Linked DNA regions of Homo sapiens: region 1 is linked to region 2. Evidence: fine-mapped expression QTL. A gene starts in region 2. The other region holds a variant in brackets. All regions are shown on one strand. Distances are from middle to middle.

Region 1 (2,900 bases), 25 kb before region 2:
ACGCCTTGCTCGGAGATGACAGAAACGAGAAAAGAAATACCTAAGTGGACATAAAGACCTAGCTCACCCTGGCCGGGTGCGGTGGCTCATGCCTGTAATCCCAGCACTTTGGGAGGCCGAGGTGGGCAGATCACCTGAGGTCGGGAGTTCTAGGCCAACTAGCTTGACCAACATGGAGAAACCCCGTCTCTACCAAAAAAATACAAAAATTAGCCGGGCGGGGTGGCTTATGCCTGTAATCCCAGCCACTCAGAGGCTGAGCCAGGAGAATCGCTTGAACCCGGGAGGCGGAGGTTGCGTTGAGCCGAGATCGCACCATTGCACTCCAGCGTGGGCAACAAGAGGAAAACTCTGTCTCAAAAAAAAGAGTCCTTGCTCACTCTTTGGTGAGGGTTTGGTATTCCACAGGGCCCCGAAGCGCGACAGCCCTCCAAGGAGAAGTGAGCGTCGGGGATTAGACGCGTGCGCTGTCTTGCGCAGGAGCTGAGTCCTCAGGGTCCACAGAGAGAGGAGGAGGGCGTGGGGTGCGCGGAAACGCAGCGCCTGCCTTTTGCCCTGACCCCACAGCACCACCTGGTGTCTCCCGGGACGGCGCAAGCGCCGCGCTTGCAGATGCTGGGCCCCCTCCCCGTCAGCCGACCCTCCTTCCCCAAGTGCCTCCCCTGCCTGGTGTTCCTCCTTCCTTGATGCGCCCCTCTGGCTGGCCCTTCACCGTCCAGTGAGTGCTTCCTGGCCTGGCCGCAGCTGGCTTACAGCCTACTGCCTTTACCCAGGTCTTATTCCCAGGAGGTGCGTCAGGGCCCCTTGCCCACCGTGGGGCTGCACTGAAAAACAGTGGCCCGGGAGCAAGACAGCTAGTGGTGCAAGGCACAGGACGGTCGCCGACAGGCCCTCCCGATCAGCCAGCAGAGGGCAGCCTCTCTCCAGCTTTGGGCCCCAAAGGCTCCCATCCGGGCCACTCCTGTAGGCCCCTCCCAGACAGAAGGGTCCACCTGGGTGTGTGGAACCAGCCGTCCTCCTGGCTGCGGAAACTTGTCCGGAGCACCTTTCGTGGGCCACCCCCTGTGCTGGAGCCAGAGGGGTTACCAAGATGGAGCCCTTGACCCCGATTGCAGAACTCCCAGCCAGAGCCCACCCTGGGCTGGCATTCCCTGAACTCCTCCAGCTCTTCTCCCGGTCATCTTGTACTTTTCTATTGCTCTGCACCATTGATGGGTGTTATGCATGCATAGGTGCCTTTCTCAGAGTCCAGGAGGGGCCTCTGTCAAGGCCACTGTTGGAGCTGGTCATCTGGGAAATAGGTACACGAGGCCTTGTTGTTATTAAAGCATCTGCTTTTGTTTTGAAAACTTAGTGTGGGCACATTTTCGAGAAGGGCTGAAGCAAAGCAGCACAGCCCCAACGCATCAGGCAGGTATGCCTAAGATGAAGGATGCCGCAACCCCTCACATGAACCTATTTCCAAAAAAAAATGTGGCCTTCCACGGACTTGCTGTGGGGGCCCTAACAGCACAGCAGGCTGAGCCAGGCCCCTCCACCACACCCCTCCTAGG[T/C]AGAAGTGAGCTTTCTAGATTTGACGTGAAAGTTCCTCTGGTTGAGTTTCCCTCTTAGGCTGGGGCTTTCCGAGCTGGGAGAAGTTCTGAGCACAGTTTTGGGGCCTAGCTGAGCCCCTCCAAGTCCAAAGTCCATGCAATTCCCAGGCCCAGATTTGGGGGTGGAGACCAGACAGGACAAGCCAGTGGTGTTTGGCTGGTCGGGTCACTTCAGACAGTGTGGTTCAGTTGGCATTGATACTGAGAAGTAATTGGTCCTTAGAAAAAGCAGGAACGAATCCACTTTGATTCATTTCCACCAGGCTGCCTGCTTTTTTTTTGAGACAGAGTTTCACATTTGTTGCCTAGGCTGGAGTACAATGGTGTGATCTCAGCTCACTGCAACCTCTGCCTCCCGGGTTCAAGCGATTCTCCTGCCTCAGCCTCCCAAGTAGCTGGGATTACAGGCACCCACCACCATGCCTGGCTCATTTTTTGTATTTTTAGTTGAGTCAGAATTTCACCATGTTAGCCAGGCTGGTCTCAAACTCCTGACCTCAGGTGATCCGCCTGCCTCGGCCTCCCAAAGCCCCTGCTAATTTGATTGCTCCCATTGAGTTCCCTCCCAGCTCCACAGACACAGGATTGGACACCAGAGTTCTGGTCTAAACAGCTTTATTGACCAGATGAGAAATCAGCTTGGGTACAGCCCATGCCTGCAGCCCTTTCAGTGGGTGGCTCCAGATAGTGTTGTCCTTTCAGTTGCTGGGAGCGGTGAGGCCCAGCCCTTTCCCCTTCCTCCCACCACTATTCCTAACCTGGGGCCTGGCAGGGGTGGAGTGATGTGATCTAAGGGTCCCTGGAGAAGGGTGGAGTGGAAGAGGCAGGGTCTTGGGTTAAAGGGAAGATTCTGAGGTCTCAGGGCAAAGGGAAAGGTGTTTGGATGAAGACTGAGGCAGTGCCTACCTCCCTCCACATCTGAGGATCAAGCAGGTGTGGCAAGAACAGAGCCCTGGCCTGGGCTCTGCTGGCCGCAGCCTCAGGAGCCAGGGTTAAGGCCAGAGATAAATGAAGATTTGAGCCATTGATAAATGCCAATATATGTTTCAGGTATTTCATTAGGATCCTCCCATCAAGCAGGGAACTAGATGTTTGAGAAGATCAAACAACATCCTGACTTTGGGGTCCTTAAGACCTGGGTTATTCTCCTCCCAGTCCTAGTGGGAGGCTATCCATTCCACAAAGACTCAAAGGCAAGAGGCCTGGAGAAGCAGGGGCTCCTAGGACCCTGCCTGCATGCCTCTCTGCCTCCAATAGTGACTCCCTAAGCTGGGACTCCTCAGGCTTACTCTGAGGGACACCAGGAAG
Region 2 (2,900 bases):
ACATTGAGAAGTTAAATAGTTTGTCCAAGGAAACCTGCGCGTTAAGTGGCAAATCCAAGAGTCAAAACTCTGCCTTCCAAACAATCCCACCAAGACTCCAAGCCACCTCTTCATGATATACTGATATACTTTCTACCAGGGCCCAGTGGATTTCCTCGGTGCCACTGTGATAGTATCCCAGCGTGGGGAGAGCCTGCCCATTCATTCACTCTCAGGGAGCAGCTGGTGGGTGGCTGGAGCCCAGGGCTCTAGGCAGAGCCTGAGCCCACTATTGCTCCAGCCGATTCCTGGGTCCTGGTTAGTTCACAACAGCACCAGAACCAGAAGCATGCAAAATATTCTCTAGTCTGTACCAGTAGATACAATACCTGCCTCAGAGGGCTGATTGTTAGCTAACACATTGTGATTTGCTTTAAATGTGCTCAATACCAGCCCCTTTATCACTTCCCAGCTTTCAAGGACTGAGGCCACAAAACACTGACTGCAGGCTCTTTCAGGTTTCAGTAACCATCACCACCTAGCACCAAGATTTGGAGTGGAGAGGTTTCCATGCAGTTATTTCACAAGAGGGAAAACTCACACCTGCGCTCAGGGACACAGATGTCCAAGGTCAGGCCCAGATGTTTGCCCCACCCCGCCCGCGGGCATTTTCTCCCCAGCAGGAGGGTGAGGGAGGGGGTGGCACGGATGCCCTCATCTCTCTGCCATACAATGAGCGTCAGTGGCGCGCAGAATCGCCGATTGTTCTGCCCGACTTGCAGGCGGTTGCGGGGAGCCGGGTCGCCCTGGGTCACGCACACGCGGAAGTCAACTGTGTCCAGGAAGCCCAGGAAGGCCCGGGATGGGGACGGACCTAGTGCCTCCAGAAAAGAGCAGCACTGCCCGGGCTAACTGCGGTCACTTCTCACAGTTCCCCGCCTGCGACAGCCCCGGGGCTGCGGCGGGGCTGGCAAGACCGGGAGGCGCTGAGTGCGTGCCCAGGCGCCCCTCCGCGGCGGGCAGAGCCGCGCGACTCAGGGCGCACTCACCTGGCAGCTGGCTCGGCGGCGCAGGGGCGGCAGGCGCTCTCGGAAGTGGCGGCTGGGTGCGCCCGGCCTGCGCGCCGTTTTGTTCCGCTCCGCGGAAGGCGTGTCCCGGGCCACGCCAACCAGTGGGCTTTGCACACTGCACCACTCCAGGGCTGATGTCATGGCGCGAAGCCCGGCGGTGCTGCCCTCCTAGGCCCCGGGAAGGCCGGCCGGCAGGGGCGGGGGCAGGAGTCGCCGACTCTGGGGGTGCTCCGAGCTCGTGCTGCGGTCCCACTGTGCGCCCTGTCGCCGCCACCGCGGAAAACGTCTTGCACGTGCGAGGGGCATTTCAGGAGTTTCCTGTCTGTCAGGTGAGAAGGCGGAGATATGACCTTAGAGGTCAGACCCATGATAAACTTGAGCCCCTAACGAAAGGGTGTCTCGAATTTACTTGTCCTGGTGGCAGAGGGTGAGGGACACATTTTGGGCGCCAGGGTAAGACAGACCCTTCCAGGGCAGGTCTGATTCTGCCCATCCACTCACTAGCTGGGCCCTGGGCCTAGACAGCCCTTCTGGGTTCAGGGTCATCTGTGAACGGCGTGTAATCTACAGGGATGTGAGGGGCTAAAAGGAGATCCGGTAGGACCCGCAGACCTTCAGCAGCACCCGGCATGTAATAGACACTCAATAAATGTAACTCCCCCCTCCAACAGCTCTTGCCCCTCAGTTTTTCCCAGTCTTCCCTGCTACCCTAAGGACAACACCTGGAAAAAGGTGTTCTCCCGCAAAAGCAGCAGTTCTGAAAAGTGGGTGCCTCCATAGAGGCTTTTCTCTGGGGCTCCAACCTTCAGTAGGACAGACACAGGCTCAGGCCACTCAAGCTGCCCCTGGGGCAGTTTCCAGGGGACATTCTGTCCACACCTCCTCACCCAGTCCCCAGCCCTTCCTGAGTGCCCCGTGCAGGCATTTCAGGGAGCAGAGAAGCTCACAGCCTCCAGCTGGTCACCCTACACCCCAGGTGGCCCATAGATGCAGCTGCTATGTCTTCCACCCTGGGCAGGTGTCAAGGGTTCAGGCCCCAACCGGCTTCACTTAAAGCCCTGGTTTGCTGAATCAACTTTTTGCCAGGAATAAAGTTAAGCATCTTATGATCTAGAAAATGAAGTATTTGGCCAGGCACTGTGGCTCACGCCTGTAATCCCAACACTTTGGGAGGCCGAGGCAGGCAGATTGCTTAAACCCAGGAGTTCGAGACCTGGTGAAACCCTGTTTCTACAAAAAAATTAAAAAAATTAGCCAGGCGTGGTGGTGTGTGCCTGTAATCCAAGCTACTCGAGAGGCTGAGGTGGAAGGATCACTTGAACTCAGGAGGCAGAGGTTGCAGTGAGCCAAGATTGCACCACTGCACTCCAGCCTGGGCGACAGAGCAAGAGTGTTTCTCAAAAAAAAAAGTGTTTATCTAGGTTTTTCTTGCTTTCTACCATAAGTAACATCTTTCCTTTGGCCAGGTCCATCCTATAAACAAGGCCCTCCAAGATTAAAATGTCTAGAAGCACACAACCAGTGTTTCTTGCAGATTGGGCCATCTTCATCTGACCCAACCAAGATGAAGGAGGAGAAACCAGAAGAATTTCTGGTCACGGCTGCACTGACTAAGCAATAGTTAAACAGGTCCATTAAACTGCAGAACCACCATCAGTGTCAGAGACCAAGGGCTTCCGCCCAAAGATGGCGATCCCATGGGATTTCCCCCTCTCCTTTCAATTCTCAGTATCTTGGAGAGATGAGCCTCGGAGTTTTGCCCAGGATTTTACAAAAGGGCAAACTCCTACATTACCTTCTTTGGTCTGGGTTTGTCCTCTCTGGAGTCATGGGACTGTTGATAGATTTCCC

What was found.
Region 1: its variant is fine-mapped to the expression of CSRP1 in whole blood (TOPMed, PIP above 0.99).

What each region holds. Positions count from the first base shown.
Region 1 is chr1:201,481,340-201,484,239 of GRCh38, forward strand. It overlaps CSRP1 (cysteine and glycine rich protein 1), which reads right to left. Exons shown (of 6, transcript NM_004078.3): 6 at 2,191-2,900. Among named protein-coding and RNA genes, the nearest start is that of PHLDA3, 14 kb to the left of the region's middle. RefSeq lists an enhancer at 1,649-1,978. The variant T/C (reference allele first, on the strand shown) is at 1,554.
Region 2 is chr1:201,506,042-201,508,941 of GRCh38, forward strand. CSRP1 (cysteine and glycine rich protein 1) reads right to left here and starts at 1,082. Exons shown (of 6, transcript NM_004078.3): 1 at 1,029-1,082. CSRP1-AS1 (CSRP1 antisense RNA 1) reads left to right here and starts at 1,172. Exons shown (of 2, transcript NR_160747.1): 1 at 1,172-1,378. RefSeq lists a silencer at 784-1,413.